Homo sapiens: one gene and its partners. The protein of the gene in region 2 interacts with the protein of the main gene of each other region in a biochemical or structural test. Each region holds a gene or a part of one and is shown on either strand. Other genes may lie near its edges.

What was found. Proteins that work in one complex are often made in the same cells at the same time.
Region 1: the proteins of MLX (region 2) and MLXIPL form a complex in vitro, tested with the Homo sapiens proteins (one study listed by BioGRID).
Region 3: the proteins of MLX (region 2) and MNT form a complex in vitro, tested with the Homo sapiens proteins (one study listed by BioGRID).

The regions. Positions count from the first base shown.
Region 1 is NC_000007.14:73,593,490-73,600,523, reverse strand, and holds part of MLXIPL (carbohydrate-responsive element-binding protein), read left to right. Parts: intron 1-828; coding exon 829-998; intron 999-2,810; coding exon 2,811-3,342; intron 3,343-3,591; coding exon 3,592-3,659; intron 3,660-3,734; coding exon 3,735-3,885; intron 3,886-4,044; coding exon 4,045-4,160; intron 4,161-4,251; coding exon 4,252-4,371; intron 4,372-4,554; coding exon 4,555-4,682; intron 4,683-4,763; coding exon 4,764-4,887; intron 4,888-6,120; coding exon 6,121-6,250; intron 6,251-6,540; coding exon 6,541-6,659; 3' UTR 6,660-7,034. UniProt on the Homo sapiens protein: Binds DNA as a heterodimer with MLX/TCFL4 and activates transcription. Binds to the canonical E box sequence 5'-CACGTG-3'. Plays a role in transcriptional activation of glycolytic target genes. Involved in glucose-responsive gene regulation.
Region 2 is NC_000017.11:42,570,070-42,573,707, forward strand, and holds the end of MLX (max-like protein X), read left to right. Parts: coding exon 1-114; intron 115-1,477; coding exon 1,478-1,534; 3' UTR 1,535-2,898; coding exon of another isoform or gene 2,899-2,955; 3' UTR 2,956-3,037; coding exon of another isoform or gene 3,038-3,097; 3' UTR 3,098-3,134; downstream 3,135-3,638. Other genes in the region: PSMC3IP (homologous-pairing protein 2 homolog), read right to left, coding at 2,899-2,955, 3,038-3,097, 3,242-3,295, 3,409-3,554. UniProt on the Homo sapiens protein: Transcription regulator. Forms a sequence-specific DNA-binding protein complex with MAD1, MAD4, MNT, WBSCR14 and MLXIP which recognizes the core sequence 5'-CACGTG-3'. The TCFL4-MAD1, TCFL4-MAD4, TCFL4-WBSCR14 complexes are transcriptional repressors.
Region 3 is NC_000017.11:2,398,028-2,404,879, forward strand, and holds the start of MNT (max-binding protein MNT), read right to left. Parts: upstream 3,034-6,852; 5' UTR 2,686-3,033; coding exon 2,613-2,685; intron 1,576-2,612; exon of another isoform or gene 1,188-1,575; intron 966-1,187; exon of another isoform or gene 762-965; coding exon of another isoform or gene 665-761; intron 1-664. UniProt on the Homo sapiens protein: Binds DNA as a heterodimer with MAX and represses transcription. Binds to the canonical E box sequence 5'-CACGTG-3' and, with higher affinity, to 5'-CACGCG-3'.

The DNA.
Region 1 (7,034 bases), on a different chromosome or scaffold from region 2:
TTGGAGCCCACCCGTATCCCCCTCTTGCCCACACCCCACTCAGAACCCACCCTTAGGCCCCTCTCGCCCCCACCCCACTCAGAGCCCACCCTTAGCCCCTCTTGCCCACACCCCACTTGGAGCCCAGCCTTAGGCACCCCCCTCACCCCCATCCCACTCAGAGCCCACCCATATCTCCCTCTTGCCCACACACCACTCAGAGCCCACCCTTAGGCCCCTCTCGCCCCCACCCCACTCGGAGCCCAGCCTTAGGCCCCTCTCGCCCCATTACACTCTTCACCCCACTCCTAGGCTCCACCTGTTGACCTTCCAACAAACCAAGCTTGTCCCGGACCCAGTGACCTCACGTTCCCCCTCATCTCCAACTCACCCTCTTGAACTTCTGCCACCCTGGGGCCCCTCCCATGCCAGGCCTCCTCCCCTAGCACCGTACCCCTTTTCCACCCTGGCACTCGCTCTGGGCACCCCCTTTCTGCACCTCCAGCAGATCAGGGAAGGGGAGCCACCAGGGGGTGGGGAGGGGGACTTCCTGAGCTAAGCCTGGGGCTGGGGAGGGGAGGGGGCTCCTTCCTGGGGTCCCTGTTCACATCCACAGTCCCCTGCTCTCTCCCACGCAAGCTCATTCCACCCAAGACGGTTGCTGCTTCCCCTAATCGAGACAGAAACCCTCCCAGTTTCACAATCTTCTGTGGAAGGGACCCCCACCCTCTGCCCGCCAGTCCCCATGTCCCCACCCGCCAAGGCTGGGGACAGGCCACTCTCCTCTCAGCTGTTTCCCAGCCATAGCCCTGGCCCTAACTGCTGTTGCCCTGTGTGTCTGAATTACAGATTTCTTTACCAACTCCCGCCTCCCACAGCCGCCCATGCCTTCAAACTTCCCAGAGCCCCCCAGCTTCAGCCCCGTGGTTGACTCCCTCTTCAGCAGTGGGACCCTGGGCCCAGAGGTGCCCCCGGCTTCCTCGGCCATGACCCACCTCTCTGGACACAGCCGTCTGCAGGTGAGCTCACCCCACCCCGTCCAGCCCTGTGTAGCTCACTTGAGAGCTGTTCCTGCCCTGTTCATGTCCAGGAGGTATCAGACACTCCCTGAGTGCCCAGTCTTCTGCTTGGAGATTGGAGGGAAAGAAAGACCCCATCTCTGCCCTCTGGGAGGGACCCCGTGAAGCAGAACTGGACAAAACGGTTGTGGGAGAAAGCTAAGGGCATGGAGACCATGGAATGGGCTCCACCAAGGGCCAGTTGCTTGTGGAAGGCTTCCTGGAGAAGGGGAGTTTCTGGGCCTTAGAGAATAGGTCAGCTTTGGACAGAAGGGACTGGCTGACCTCAAGCCAGATGGGAGAACAGCAGGAACAAAAGCTTCGAGGCAGAAAGCTGAGCGTGGATGTTTAGGAAACAGTGAATCTACCATTTTGGTTCATCAATTCCCCATATGCAATTCTTTTTTTTTTTTTTCTTTGAGACAGAGTCTCACTCTGTCGCCTAGGCTCGAGTGCAGTGGCATGATCTCGGCTCACTGTAACCTCCGCCTCCCGTGTTCAAGCGATTTCCGGCTTATTTTTGTATTTTTAGTAGAGACAGGGTTTCACCATGTTGCCCAGGCTGGTCTCAAACTCCTGACCTCAGTAGTCCGCCCGCCTCGGCCTCCCAAGGTGGTGGGATTACAGGTGTGAGCCACCACACCTGGCCCCCAGGTGCAGTTCAGAAGTTGCTTCCTGCTGCTTGGTTATAGGCCTTTTCCCTCCATCATCAGACTTTTCAGGTGCTAATTCTAATCGGTTGCTGAGGGGTGTCTCTCCTCCATCAGACAGTGAGCTCCTTACTGAAAGGGTTATGTTTTGCTCACCACTGCATTCTCTATACCTAATACAGCTCAGGCACATAACAGCACTCAGTGAATGGTTGTCCAATGAGTGAGTCAGTGACTGAATGAATGAGCAAGTGTGCAGATGAATGGGCGTGCTGGTGAATGGATAGATGCATCTTAGACTGCGGTGGAGGCACACGTGGGTTGGTGGATATATGGGTAGGTGAGTGGTTGGGTGGATGGGTGGGCTGGTGGATGGATACATAGATGAATAGTTTAATGGATTAGTGAATGGGTTCATTGGTGGTTAAGTGGCTGGAAATGTATAGATGGTGGATGGATGGAAGGATTATGGATGGGTTGGTGGATGAATGATGGAAGTATAGATGGTTGGATGGATTAGTTAATATGTTAATATCTGGTAGGCTGGTGGAGAGAGTGGTAGATGAGCTGGTTCATAGATTGATAAATAGGTAGGTGAATGGATGGAAGACGGATGGATGGAGAGATTGGTGGATGAAGTAGTAGATGGACAATTGATGAATGGATGGGTGGGTTGGTTAGTGGATGGATTGGTGAAGTTAGTGGATGGATGATGAAGGAATGGTAGGTTGGTTGGTGGATGGATCAGTGGACAAGTTAGTGGATGGATGGATGATGAATGGATGGGTGAGTTGGTTGGTGGATGGATTGGTGGACAAGTTAGTGGATGGATGGATGAATAAGTTATTTGGGAGACAAATGGACGGGCAGGAAGATTGATGCTCCGCTGTTCCTGCTTTTTGCATAAATGTACTCGACTCCCTCCTCTCATTGTAATTTCCCTGCTGCATGTATATGTTCGCACACCTGTGTGTGTTGGAAGGCAGGGCTCATTTCTCCTATCTCTCCCCAGGGCCCCAGTCTAGAGTTTGGCCAGGGCAAGGCAGGGCAGGGGAGGCCCAGATGGCTGCCAGGGGCAGCTCTCTCCCCTGCTCTCTGAGTGTCTGTCTGTCCCCCCAACCAGGCTCGGAACAGCTGCCCTGGCCCCTTGGACTCCAGCGCCTTCCTGAGTTCTGATTTCCTCCTTCCTGAAGACCCCAAGCCCCGGCTCCCACCCCCTCCTGTACCCCCACCTCTGCTGCATTACCCTCCCCCTGCCAAGGTGCCAGGCCTGGAGCCCTGCCCCCCACCTCCCTTCCCTCCCATGGCACCACCCACTGCTTTGCTGCAGGAAGAGCCTCTCTTCTCTCCCAGGTTTCCCTTCCCCACCGTCCCTCCTGCCCCAGGAGTGTCTCCGCTGCCTGCTCCTGCAGCCTTCCCACCCACCCCACAGTCTGTCCCCAGCCCAGCCCCCACCCCCTTCCCCATAGAGCTTCTACCCTTGGGGTATTCGGAGCCTGCCTTTGGGCCTTGCTTCTCCATGCCCAGAGGCAAGCCCCCCGCCCCATCCCCTAGGGGACAGAAAGCCAGCCCCCCTACCTTAGCCCCTGCCACTGCCAGTCCCCCCACCACTGCGGGGAGCAACAACCCCTGCCTCACACAGCTGCTCACAGCAGGTGAGGGCCAGCAACGGGGAGAGGAAAGCCTGGGGAGGGAGGCCAGGGGGTGGGGAGGACAGGGGGTTTTGGGAGCAGAAGATGAAGGTGAAGGGGCAGGTCCAGTTCAAGGGACAGAGTGGCAAGGAATGAGGGATGTGGGGCCTGTACCTAAAAGGGGTGTGGACTCTTGGGAGGGGCAGGATGGGGTCTTGATAGATGCCGGGGGTGGGCCAGCCCCAGTAGCCTCACGGTTCTGCCCGTGCACAGCTAAGCCGGAGCAAGCCCTGGAGCCACCACTTGTATCCAGCACCCTCCTCCGGTCCCCAGGGTCCCCGGTAAGATCTCGGGCACTGGGCGGTGGGGCTGTGCCCACGGCCTTCAACCCGACTCTCCGCCCTTCTCCACCCCAGCAGGAGACAGTCCCTGAATTCCCCTGCACATTCCTTCCCCCGACCCCGGCCCCTACACCGCCCCGGCCACCTCCAGGCCCGGCCACATTGGCCCCTTCCAGGCCCCTGCTTGTCCCCAAAGCGGAGCGGCTCTCACCCCCAGCGCCCAGCGGTAAAGAGAGGGGTTGCAGGGATTGGGGGAATCTAGGGGATGAGGGGAAGAGGAGGAAGAAGAAGGGGACTGGGTCTGGGGCCAGATGAGAGGAAGGGGGCAATGGGGACCCTTTCCCCTGGGTCGGTCTTTCTGTGGGTCTGTCTGTCCCTACCACAGGCAGTGAACGGCGGCTGTCAGGGGACCTCAGCTCCATGCCAGGCCCTGGGACTCTGAGCGTCCGTGTCTCTCCCCCGCAACCCATCCTCAGCCGGGGCCGTCCAGACAGCAACAAGGTGGGCACCATCCCCCACCCCAAGATCGGTTTGCTACCCCCAGGCCCTCCTGGGCTCCTTCCTAGGCTCACCCAACTCTCTGCTCCCCGAGACCGAGAACCGGCGTATCACACACATCTCCGCGGAGCAGAAGCGGCGCTTCAACATCAAGCTGGGGTTTGACACCCTTCATGGGCTCGTGAGCACACTCAGTGCCCAGCCCAGCCTCAAGGTGAGCCCCGGGCCCAGGCTGGCACCCCCAAAACCACAGGGCCCCTTTCTGGACCCCCCCCACCCAAAACTCAATTGCAGGGGAGTGCTCCAGACACTCTTGCCTCCTCCCATCCCAGTGCCTCAGTGGGTCCCAGGGTACAGCCTCTAGCACCTGCCTGAGCCCCCCTGGTGGCGTCTGCAGGTGAGCAAAGCTACCACGCTGCAGAAGACAGCTGAGTACATCCTTATGCTACAGCAGGAGCGTGCGGGCTTGCAGGAGGAGGCCCAGCAGCTGCGGGATGAGATTGAGGAGCTCAATGCCGCCATTAAGTAGGCAGGGTCCAGGCGGGTGCTGGGACCAGGGGGCCATGCCGCCTTACCCCCAGCCCCTGACCCCTGCCCTGCCCCCAGCCTGTGCCAGCAGCAGCTGCCCGCCACAGGGGTACCCATCACACACCAGCGTTTTGACCAGATGCGAGACATGTTTGATGACTACGTCCGAACCCGTACGCTGCACAACTGGAAGTTCTGGGTGGTATCCTCCCTCAAGCCCATGGCTGGGGGGCTGCAGGGGCTGTGGCAGGGTGAGACCAGGCTGGGCCTGGGATGGAGGCCTAGCTCTCCAGGCCGGGCAGGCTCAGAGCTGCTCCCAGGTGACAGGCTCTGGCTCTGCCCCCTGCTTCCATGCCCTGGCCATCTTGGCCAGCAAAATTGCCCAGGGATGGGGGGCTGGGAGCAGAGAGGGAAACTGAGGGAGGAGTCCTTGGGTAAGGGGAGCCTTGGCCCTGACCTCAGGAAGCCCCGAGGGCAGTTTGGGAGAATCTGAACTCTGGAGTGAGGACTACAGAAGACTTGGAATCCACTCCCTGATCTGGCTCAGGGGTCAAGTTCTTGACTGAGCCCAGGCAGGGAGCTCAGGGATGGGGGATGGTTCAGCACACAGTAAGGGCCGTGGAGGGGCAAGGAGGAGGGGACTGAGAGGCAGAGAGCTGGGAAGGTCTTGGCAGGACAGAAGTAGGGACTGCAAGCCAGGTGCGGTGGCTCACGCCTGTCATCCCAGCACTTTGGGAGGCCGAGGCAGGTGGATCACTTGAGGCCAGGAGTTCAAGACCAGACTGGCCAACATGGCAAAACCCCATCTCTACTAAAAATACAAAAATTAGCCAAGCGTGGTGGCATGTGCCTGTAATCCCAACTACTCGGGAGGCTGAGGCAGGAGAACAGCTTGAACCTGGGAGGTGGAGGTTGCAGTGAGCCAAGATTGTGCCACTGCATTCCAGCCTGGGCAGCAGAGTGAGACTCTGTCAAAAAAAAAAAAAAAAAAAGTCCGAGCACAGTGGCTCACGCCTGTAATTCCAGCACTTTAGGAGGCTGAGGTGGGTGGATCACGAGGTCAGGAGTTCGAGACCAGCCTGACCAACATAGCGAAACCCCGTCTCTACTAAAAATACAAAAATTAGCCAGGTGTGGTGGCGCACACCTGTAATCCCAGCTACTCAGGAGGCTGAGGCAGGAGAATTGCTTGAACCTGGGAGGCAGAAGTTGCAGTGAGCTGAGATCGTGCCACTGCACTTCAGCCTGGGTGACAGAGCGAGACTCCGTCTCAAAAAAAAAAAAAGAAGAAGTAGGGGCTGCAACATGAGTCATTGGGGTTCAACGTTAGACAGTGTCCAGGCCCTTTCTTCCCCTGGTTTGAACTGGGCATCAGGGCTCCACGTGGTGTGGGGGGACCAGCTGGACCACAGGCAGCTCCTTGACCTGGGCCCAGTTCAGCATCCTCATCCGGCCTCTGTTTGAGTCCTTCAACGGGATGGTGTCCACGGCAAGTGTGCACACCCTCCGCCAGACCTCACTGGCCTGGCTGGACCAGTACTGCTCTCTGCCCGCTCTCCGGCCAAGTACGTGAGCCATCTCCCTGCCTGCTAGAGGGACCCAGCCTCGGGGGTGGAGGGAGCATTCCACCCTGCTTAGATCCCACATCCAGCTTGCCATCAACACAGCCTAGGGTTGTGGCCACCCCGCATCCCCCAGATGGTCCTCTGGCCACCAGACGCCTGTAGACAGAGGTTCTAGGAGGGGGTGACAGTCTTGCCAACTAATACCTCCCCCTATCCCTTTGGTTCCACATCCAAGGGTAGGGCCCTGACCCCAGGAAGTGTCTGTCTCTCTCTCTCTGTCTCCCACCCAGCTGTCCTGAACTCCCTACGCCAGCTGGGCACATCTACCAGTATCCTGACCGACCCGGGCCGCATCCCTGAGCAAGCCACACGGGCAGTCACAGAGGGCACCCTTGGCAAACCTTTATAGTCCTGGCCAGACCCTGCTGCTCACTCAGCTGCCCTGGGGGCTGCTTTCCCTGGGCACGGGCTCCAGGGATCATCTCTGGGCACTCCCTTCCTGCCCCAGGCCCTGGCTCTGCCCTTCCCTGGGGGGTGGAGCAGGGTCCAGGTTTCACACTTGCCACCTCCTGGAGGTCAAGAAGAGCAGAGTCCCCGTCCCTGCTCTGCCACTGTGCTCCAGCACCGTGACCTTGGGTGACTCGTCCGCTGTCTTTGGACCGCTGTGTTTCAATCTGCAAAATGGGGATGGGGAAGGTTCAATCAGCAGATGACCCCCAGGCCTTGGCAGCTGTGACATTGGGGGCCTAGGCTGGCAACTCCGGGGGCTCAACGGTGGAAAGAG
Region 2 (3,638 bases):
CAAGGCATCATGGATTCCCTGTTCCAGTCCTTCAATGCCTCCATCTCAGTGGCCAGCTTCCAGGAGCTGTCAGCGTGTGTCTTCAGCTGGATCGAGGAGCACTGTAAGCCTCAGGTATGGGGCAACAATAGGCACAGGGTCTGCGGTTTTCTCTACCATCAAGCAAAGTGGCCCAAGCCATCAGCTGTTGAGAAAAGCGTGGCAGCTGCTTTTAGATCTTAAGGGCGTTTCTACAGCTTTGAGGGCCCTGGTATTTTCCCTTTTCTTTGCTGTCTAACCCACATCTTCATGTTACGGTTTCATTCGGCAAGTGTGACGTGAGCTCAATGTGAAGTCCAGCTCTTGGCTTTTGTCTAGCCCATGTTATCGCTGCCCCTGTATGGAAGCCCCAGGCATCTGCAGCAGAATTGGAAACGCAAATTCTGGGACCCTACCTTTAGGCCCCCTAAAGTAGTTGCCCCAAGAGCTTTTTAAAAATTTATTTATAATGGAGATGTGCTAATGGTATTGCACTAAGTCTTCTAATTGAAGTCTGGTTGCTTTTTCTGAGGTTTTAAACTTGTGTCTGAGATTTCTTGTTTGTTTCTCAACATTTTTTTTTTTGAGACGGGAGTCTCGTTCTGTCGCCCAGGCTGGAGTGCAGTGGCACAATCTCGGCTCACTGCAACCTCCGCCTCCCGGGTTCACGCCATTCTCCTGCCTCAGCCTCCCGAGTAGCTGGGACTACAGGCGTGTGCCACCATACCTGGCCAATTTTTTGTATTTTTTAGTAAGACGGGGTTTCACCGTGTTAGCCAGGATGGTCTCGATCTCCTGACCTTGTGATCCACCCGCCTCGGCCTCCCAAAGTGCTGGGATTACAGGCATGAGCCACTGTGCCTGGCCTCGTTTCCCAACATTTTTATTGTGAAACACATTAAACATATTGCGATGTTGAGAGGAGTTCACAGTGAACACTCGTATACCCGCTCCCTAAATTTTACCGAAACATTTTACTATATTTCCATCTCTCCATCTTGCTTCAGGAGCACCTCAAATTAAACTGCAGACATCAGTACTTCCTGGGGGCTTTTTTTTTTTTTTTTTGAGACGGAGTCTCACTCTGTCACCAAGGCTGGAGTGCAGTGGTGTGATGTCAGCTCACTGCAACTTCCACCTCCTGGGTTCAGGCGATTCTCATACCTCAGCCTCCTGTGTAGCTGGGATTACAGGCATGTGCCACCACACCTAATTTTTGTATTTTTAGTAGAGACGGGGTTTCACTATGTTGGCCAGGCTGGTCTTGAAATTCAGGTGATCCACCCGCCTTGGCCTCCCGAAGTGCTGGGATTATAGGCGTGAGCCACCACACCTGGCCCCCGGGGGGCTATTTTTAAAGCACTTTTCTAAAGTACATGGCTGATCTAGGCAGGCATCTTGGAAACTACTCTGCGTTGACTTGGGCATTGTCTATTTCTTCCTCTGCTGCCCTCGCCAGACCCTGCGGGAGATTGTGATTGGCGTCCTGCACCAATTGAAAAACCAGCTTTACTGACCGGTTCTTGGAAACCTGGAGAACAGCCAACAAGAGGCCCTTGAATCTCTACGTGGCCACTGAACTGCTGGGCCCGGGAGACTGGACTACAACACCTCACACTGGTCAGCTGGTTTCTACTTGGTGTTTGGTTTTTCCCAGCCCCATTTTATCTTCAGCGGAGCCGCGGTGTTTGTTTTGTGAAAGCTTCTGATTAATTTATTATATTGACGATAAAACTCAAACCTACCCAGCCTTCCCCCCACTCCATGGAAGTCCTTGGGATGGGCGTCTGCTCTGGACACCCCAAAGAGCTCCTGCCCTCTCAGCCCTTTATTCAAGCCTCAGATTTCTGCTCATGATCTACATAGATTTGGAAACTGTTTTCCTCTGTTTTGGTCTCTTGGGCAACATTTTTGGCCCAAGTTTGGGCAACATTTGGCCCAAGTTTGGGCATTTTGGCAGTAGCTGTATGGGAGAAAAAGAGTAAGAGGAAATATTCCCACAGCCATGAAGGGTGAAAGGGCACCTTGTGCCTAGACTAGGGCTGCCTGGTCAGTCCCAGGTGAGGCCAAGGGCTTTCTGGCCATCTCAGGGAGGGGCCACCAGGTTCCTCCCCTCACCCCATATTCCATCACCTTCCTCCTCTGCTCTGGGTGGTAAGGGAAGCCCTCCCGGTTCCCACAGGCTATGATGCTGCATGGCAGAGGCAGGTATAACACAGCACTACATATTGGAAATTTTTTATTTTTCTAAATACCAATGCAGTTTTGCTACGGTTACAATTTTGAAATATTAACTGAGCCTCAAAATCACCCTTTCTGTCAAGCATATCTTGGCCTCTCCCATGTCTCAGTGTTGCCTGCATTTCTCCCAGGACTTGGGGGTGGGGTGAAAAGCGTACAAAAGATACTTAAAAGGGCTCCTGGGGTACACAAGCCCAGCAGGTCCTGAGTGAAGCCGTGGGCCCTCCAAATGCTCGTTTTATAGCAACCTCTCTCTACCCTAGTTCTCCAAATTCACTTCTGCCTTCCTCAGGTTTGATATCTGGCAGGTTTGACTATCCAGAGGAAATTAAATATTTTTATATAAAATTAAATTATAATAAATATTGCCAAATGCTTTCCTTTAGCATTGTTCCAAGTCTAAATGTTAACCTCAAGCTACTGCAATTTAGACAATGAAATGGGCTGGGTCTACCCCCAGCCACCAGCCCTCATCCTCTCTACCCAGTGCTCTGGTTTATGCTTGTCTCCTGACTGCTCTGCTTAAAGGTGAAAGTAGCAGGAACAACAACAAAAGCCAACCAAAAACAAGGTAGCCAGTGCAAGACATCTCACTCTTCTGACATCCTGCAGTCCCCACCAGTCCTGACCGTGGGCCCCTCAGGGGTCTGGGAGTGTGACGTTGTAATCTTCATCCGTCTCTATCCCAACTTCCTCCTGTGAGACAGGGAGACAAGTGAATGAGATGTCACCAGGATAAGACCACAGGGAAGCAAAGAAGGAAGAGAGCTCCACTTACAAAGAACTGCTTCTTGCTCTTGGGGTATCCTTCAAGTATTGCATCAGACAGCTCTGTAGCCTGACAAGAAATAAAACCACCCGTTTTCAGATGGGCAGCACTGGGCACTGCCTGTCAGTTTATGATATTGTGTAGCGGCTGATCTGGTGCCTGCCATTTTCAAAGGCACCTCCAGGGCCTGTCTCGGAGCTCCCACACACTTACCATCCTCTTCCTCTTCCTCCACTCCTTACAGTACTTCTGCCTCTCTCTGTACACCTAGAAGGAAAAAGCAAGTTCCTCTAACTCCTCAGAACCACAGCAGCCCTCTGGGGCTCAGCCCTGATGTTCACTCTGGACCTGCACAGCGGTCCTACAGCCTTCCAGCTCACCTGCTCTTTCTCTTCTGGAGTCACATGATTGGTAGCTGCTTTAATGTTCTTCAATCTCTCTCTGTAGCCAGCGCATTCCTTCTTTAACTCCTGGATTTCTTTCTGCATCTCTGGTGTGGTCAGGGCACTAGATAATTCCTTGAGCTCTGAAACCACATCCGCCTGGGGTCACTTGCTACCCCTGAGGAAGGAGTTCTGTCTTTCCCAGTGGGTGCTCCCTGAGGTGTTCC
Region 3 (6,852 bases), about 40 Mb from region 2:
AGGTGCTCTGCAGGCACAGGGCTAGGGGTGGAGGAGTCCACACTGGTGGGCCCCAGCAGCCACAGGAATTCTCCCATCTGCACGCTAAACAGGAGGCTTGGTGCCTAAGGCAGGCCCAGGGTAAGCCTTGGAGAGTTGGTCAGGAGCCTCTGGACACTCCAACCAACTCCCTCGAAACAAGGCAGAAGAGTTGCATCTGAGCCACCTCTATGAACACTAGAAATGACCAGGCCAGGCCTTCCGTCTGGGCACCAGGATAGCTCTGCCCTTTCCCCTCTCTCTCACAGGCACACACATCTGCGGGGTCCTCATGTGAGCAAACTGGCTGGTCTAGGTCAGAAACCCATGCTTGCGGTTGAAAGGGAGAAAGGACAAGAGGATCCCTGTCCAGAGCTGGTCCTAGGTCCCGGGAAAGCGTTCTGGTCAGCAGGTTCACCTGCCATGCCCTTCCTTCCATTCGTCCTGCCCCAGCTCAGAGGACAGAACCTCAAGAGGGAGAAGAAAATGAATTCTGGAGGAGAAACTGCTGGGATCGGTTCCGGACACCCGTACATGAGTTTTTGAGTAGATCTAGCTTTCCGCACCCACTCATCTACAAAGACCTCTGACCGGCACACAGAAGTCGTGACCAGGCCGCTGAACTCGGCCTAAACACAGTGCGTACTCGAACTGCAACGTGTTGATGGCGGCAGCAGGTGACTTAATCTCTCCGAACCTTGTGCACGGTCTTCCCCTGACCCCTGTGCCCAAACGTAGGACATTCTTGGTCACCAGGGGCACTCTCCACTGCCAGACCCTGCTCTGGACCATCAAGGCAACAGCCGGGGAGTGTGGGCGATGTCCCCGCCCATCACTTCTGCAAAACCCAGGCATCTGAGCCTCACATATCTCCAGTGACTCTTGACCTTGAGAGGCCGGTCGCCCCGACTAGGCCGCCGGCCCCGCAGCTCCCCCGCCCCTTGCCCGCTGCCGCTCCCCCCTTCCCCCACCCCCGCCCGCCGCGGCGGCGGCACACGGCGGCGCGCGCGCACACAACACACTACTACCTCCTGCATGACTCATCATTGAAGCAACAATAGGCAGAGAGAAAGGAAAGGAGGGCGAAGCACTCTCCAACACAACCAACCCTGCCGGGGGATTCTGGGGGGCGGGGAGGGCACAGGAGTCCCCGGGTCCTGCACACACACCGTTCCAGAGCCGAGGCCCTGGCAGCACCCTGGAAAAGGGAGGTCTTTCCCGCCAGCCCCTCTGCAGCACCCTGAAGCCAGGGACCACCAACAGGGCGCGTGAAGATAGGAGTCATTAGTCTCTTCCCTTTCGAGGGAGCGCCGAAGTTTGCCCTTTCTCATCCTGGCTCATTCCAGCGTGGCCCCGGCTGATGCCAGGGGGCATAGTTGGAACGTTTTGGGGGTCAGTGGAAAAATGTGAGCTCTAAATGTCTCGTCGCCCTGCGATTCTGAGGGTTTCCCTTGCCTCGGGATCAAACACAGGAGGTTAGGGGCCAGAGCCGACAGGTGAGCTCGGCTCCTCCCTCGCAGGGCAAAGGCTCTCCCTGGGAGGTGCCCAGAGGCCGGGGCCCGGGCCCAGGCCCAACCCAGCGCAAGGCCCCTTGCCAGCCCCGCCCAGGCCCCGCCCCCGGCCGAGCGCGAGGCGGTGAGGAGGGGCCGGGCCGCGCCGTCCCCAGCAGGAGTGTCCCCGGTGCACGTGGTCGGGGGCGGAGCCCGTCCACGTCACCACCCGGTGTAACCAACGGGCTCGGAACGCAGGCACACGCAACATTCCAGGCGAGAGCGGGTTTGGAACGCGCAGACACGCCACATTCCACACTGGCTAAAGCGGGGCGCAGCGAGGGGGGCCCGGGGGCTGACCCCCAGCGACCCGCGGGCCATTTCGCAAACGCCCAATTAGCCCGGCTTTCACCCAAACCCCGGACGCGCAGCCCAGCCCAGCTCTGGGAGGCGGGGTCAGGCGGGGCTGGCCAGGATCATAAGACACGCGATGTCATTTCATTCTGCAAAGGCCGCCTCCGCCCCAAGCGGCGCGTAGATCTGCCGGGAGCGCCCCCCGCACCCTCCCCACGGGGCCAGGGAAGCCGAAGAGCTGCTCCGCGTAGAGTAGTCCCCACCCCCACTCCGTTACACACACGCCCACTCGTGTGCTATACACACGCCCGTGTACACGTCCGTTCATCTGCTCTTCCCGAGGCTCACATCACACATCCCCCGTGCACACACGCACGCACACGCGAGCCTGCCACCCCCACGCAACACCATTCCTCACCCCACCCCCCGGCTCACACATCCTCAGTGCCACCGAGGGCTCCGCTGGCCCACGCAAAAGCAGCCCACCACAGAAGGGGCACAGGGGTGCCACGCAGCCGGGGTGGCGCCCGCAGGAGCCAGGTCCCTCGCAGCATGTTAATGAATTCATTAATTAATTTCACTGCCCACATCACCCCTCCCCAGGCGGCGGCTCTCGCGGGGAGCCGTGCGCTGCCAGGCTCCGCAGGCCGCCCGGGAGGGGGCCCTGTCCGCGGTTTCGCGTGGGTTCGGGGACCGGGGTCACTCGCTTCCCCTTCCCCAGTGCCCCAGGGGCCCAGCCCGGCCGCTCACCACGTGCTCTCTGTTGTTGCTGCGCTTGCCATTCCAGGAAGCGGGCCGCCTCCAGTAGCGTCTCTATGCTCATCGCGCCGAGAGCTGCCGGGGGCGCGCCGGGGCCGAGGCTGCGGCCCGCGAGCCGGGCACAGGTCAGGCTGGCGGGCAGGCAGGAGGGAGGGATCACCTCCGGGGGGCGACAGGGCTGGGCGGCGCAGCGCACTCCGCAGGGAAGAACGGGGGAGCACGGGGAGAAAAATCAATGTCTCTCAAAATATTTGCAAAATATAAAATTGCAAATTTAAAAAAATGGGATGCAAAAAAAAAAAAAAGGCGGCACTGCCTCCCTTCTTCCCCTCCCTCTCTACCTCCCTTCCGATGCCTCCCGCCCCGCGGCCCCCGGGAGTCCCGCCGACAAGAAAGGGCTTTGCAACAAGATGGCGAGGAGGCACCGACACACACAACAAGGGAAGGAGCCGCGCTGCCCCCGGCCGCCGCCCCCGCTACTACACCGGGGCCACAGCCAAAGCCCGGACCGGAGCCCCCGCCCGCAGGGCCGCGGCGTCTCGCGAAGGGAGGGGCGGGTCCTGCGCTGCTGGCCCCGCCCCCCGGATCCGGCGCGCGCACACGTGGCCCGGGCAGGGAGGGAGAGGTCCGAGCGGGGTGTGCGCGCCGCGGTTCCGCTTTCCTGCTGGCCCCGCCCCGGCTGCAAGCCACAAGTTGGGCCGGGGCGGTGCGTTTGGGTCGTTCACGACGAAATCTGTCCTGCTGGAGGGAGGGTAGGGTGAACAATTCAAGATTTAACAGAGTTCCAACCAGGATATTCCGGGTCAGGGAAACCTTGGGAATGGCAGAGACTGGCCTGACCCTGGGTCTCCACGCTCCACCCACTCGCGACCTAAATCCCGCAATCGCCGGGCTGTCGCAATTCCCCCGGGATCCGCCCCTGGGCGGAGCTGCCGGCGACTGGAGACTGTCAAGAGAACCAGCGGAGGGAGCGGAGCGGCAGTCCGGCTCCGCGTTTTGTCTCCGTTCCTCCCCCCGCAGTGCGTTCGCATCCTATTAGGGGACGTCACCGGGCCGCGAGCCAATGGGCGGGCAGGACAACACGGCATGGAGCAGCTCCACATGGACACCCCGCGCCGCCAGCCTTCGGTTTAAAGGGCCAGTGTCTGCAGGTCACATTCGCGGGTGCGGATGGGGCCACTGGGCGAACCCAGGGTGGGATGCCGTAAGGGGAATCCCGCAGTCGTGCCCTGGCCTCTCCATTCCTTTTCACCACCTTCCATTTAAAACCAGGCCTTTATCTTTCCTTCCCCTGAACTCCAGTCTTTGTCCACGCGTATTCGATGTGGGTGGAGATACGGACTGTGCCACCCCATGGGCCACCCTTTCCTCTGGGGCCGGGGCCAGGGCGGGGAACACGAAGCGCCCGCAGCCCAGACCGGGGGGCGTGGCCCAAATCGGGAACAACAACGTGGAGGGCGGAAGCCCGGCCCTCCCCGCGCCTGGCGACCGGCGGTGGGCGGGGCGCGGGGGCGGGGTCCGCTGCGGCCGGCTGGAACCGCGCTCCCCAGAGGGAGGGACCCCCCGTCGCCCGCCCGCCCGCCCGCGTCTTCCGGGCTCGAGTGTTTAGGGGAGCTCGGGTGCAATCGGAGAGTTAGCTCTTTGAGGCCGGCTGCCCTTAAATCCTCTCACTTCACACATAAGGAAACTGAGGCCGTGACGGCCAAGGACTCGCCTAAGGTCGTTCCGTATTCCACCTGCTCCTCTCTCCCGAAGCGGGGGCACTCTTCCCTGACCCCAGGGACGACTCTGAAGCCAGTTCTGGAGGAGGGCCCCCAATTAGAAAAATGCCAGGGAGGAATAGCAACCCTGACCACTTAACACACTGTGATTGGGGCAACAAAAATCTTCACCTGAGACCCAACTCCGCTGTTCTGCTTCCTCGGTGGAAGCCACACGAACCCCACTGGTACAGCGGCAGCGATAGACCCCAGGCGGCTGAAAGCTTATTTGGAGCGTCCCGGAGCATGTCGATTGTGCTGTGCCAGTGCAGGGGGAGTACCCCTCAGTTCTGGCCCCAGGCTCCATTCTTTGCTAACCGGTCCAAGAAGTGGGGGGGCAGTCAGTGCCAGTGGGTTTAGAACTCCTCAGCCGCGGCTTCAACATCACACACAACCAGAAAGCAAACCTTCATGAGGCTGAGAGGCAGGCCGCCCTGCCAATACATTCCATCACATGGCACCCTCGGAGCGTTCCTATTTTAGGGACTGGTTGGAAGACAGCTAGAAACATAGAAAGCAGGCAAAATGTTTGCTGGCTTTACTCCTTTCCTTTGAGGGCATCGTCATGCATCCTAGGGGGGAAAAATCTGCACAGATCCTGGAAATCAAGAACTTCGTGAACCAGAGGAAGGGGGCTGTTTGCCAGTACTAGTCTACAGAGGCCTCTGATCTTTTCACATTTAATGCCCCAGCATCTAGAGCTGAGCATGCAGAAGTCGCCACACACACAAATGTCCAGGTAGGTACCACTGATTTTGCTTATGATGAAGCTGGAGCAAAGGCGGATTAGAACGGAACAGCCCAGTTCTTCTCCATGGGATGAGTGCCCCTTTGCTGGGAGGGCCAGATCTGTGCTGGCTCCAACATTGCTTCCTTTAAGGTGTCTGCCACTTGCCACCAGTATGGTTGGGCCTGGCCCATTCTGCACAACTAGAGAAAATGGAAAATTCAAAGGCAATATAATATATAGGCGGCAGTGGAACAGGGACTCTCAACAGTATACAGACAGTCCCTGACTTGTGATGGTTTGACACAGGACTTTCCAAGTTTGCAATGGTTGTAAAAGTGATAATCTAGCATGCGCTCAATTTAGGATGGGATTATGGCTGGTGAAACCCGTCCTAAGTGGAGCTGCATCTATACATGATTGTGACCTGAGTTAATGCTTTTGGGCAAGTTCTTATTTTGTGTGGGGTCAGCACCGTGGTGCACAGTGCTCCATCCAGCTGTCCCTTCCTGCTCTCCTCAGGTGGCCATGCACTCATACAGCCCTGGAGTTTCTGCTGAAGGCTGAGGTTTAATTTTTTACACTCTTCTTTGTCACTGGCCAACTCTATACCAGTAAGTAGGCACCTCTCTGAAAGGCAGTGTTCTTAAGACACTGTTCGCTTCAGGGGTGAGGAAGCAGAAGGTAAGAGTAGAGTGAACACAGATTTGAATGCCAGCCTCTCCATTGCCCCCAATACTCCATCTGCTCCAGAGCTTAGTGGAGATGTTTGCTATTTAAAACAAACAGCCTTACTGGCTTCACATGATCATCTGTTTATTTGGGTCATGTGGGGACAGCAGCCAGGGGATGTTAGACAAAAACAAGGGTTTAGAAGGGAGGCTGCAGGCCAGGAGCGGTGGCTCACGCCTGTAATCCCAGCACTTTGGGAGGCCGAGGTGCATGGATCACTTGAGGTCCGGAGTTCGAGACAATCCTGGCCAACGTGGTGTGGTGAAACCCTGTCTCTACTAAAAAAAAAAAAAAAAAAAGGAAGAAAAAAGAAAATTAGCTGGGCGTGGTGGCAGGCGCCTGTAATCCCAGCTACTGGGGGTGGTTAAGGCAGGAGAGTCACTTGAACCCGGGAGGTGGAGGTTGCAGTGAGCTGAGATGACACCACTGCACTCCAGCCTGGGCCACAGAGAGAGACTCCGTCTCCAAAAAAAAAAAAAAAAAAAAAAAAAAAGGGTGGGGGAGGCTGTTTCTGGACCTATTGTTGCCTACAGGAGCCTGAAAATGGCCAAAAACAATACCTCATCAACCAAGCTTTCCCCAGTTGAGGAATGGACAGTGGGGGTGGGAGATACCTATAAATGGCGATGTGAGGGCATGAAAGAAGAGGGGAATGAATAGGAGGGCTGTTTAATATTTTAGCCCCAGCTTCCTGTTCCAAGGGGGTGGAGCCAGGATAGAAGCTGGCAAATGTACTCACTCAAGAGAAAGAGAAATAAGTCCTTTTGGTTTCAGCAGAAAGGTTAGCAGGTTTGGGGAATTATCCAAAGGCCAGCAATCTCTAAAAAGGTGTTCCTTAAGTTTCTTTTTCTTTTTTTCTTTTTTGAGATAGAGTCTCCCTCTGTTGCCCAGGCTGGAGTGCAGTGGTGTGATCTTGGCTCACTGCAACTTCTGCCTCCCAGGTTCAAGTGATTCTCCTGCCTCAGCCTCCGGAGTAGCTGGGATTACAAGCACGCACCACCACGCCCGGCTA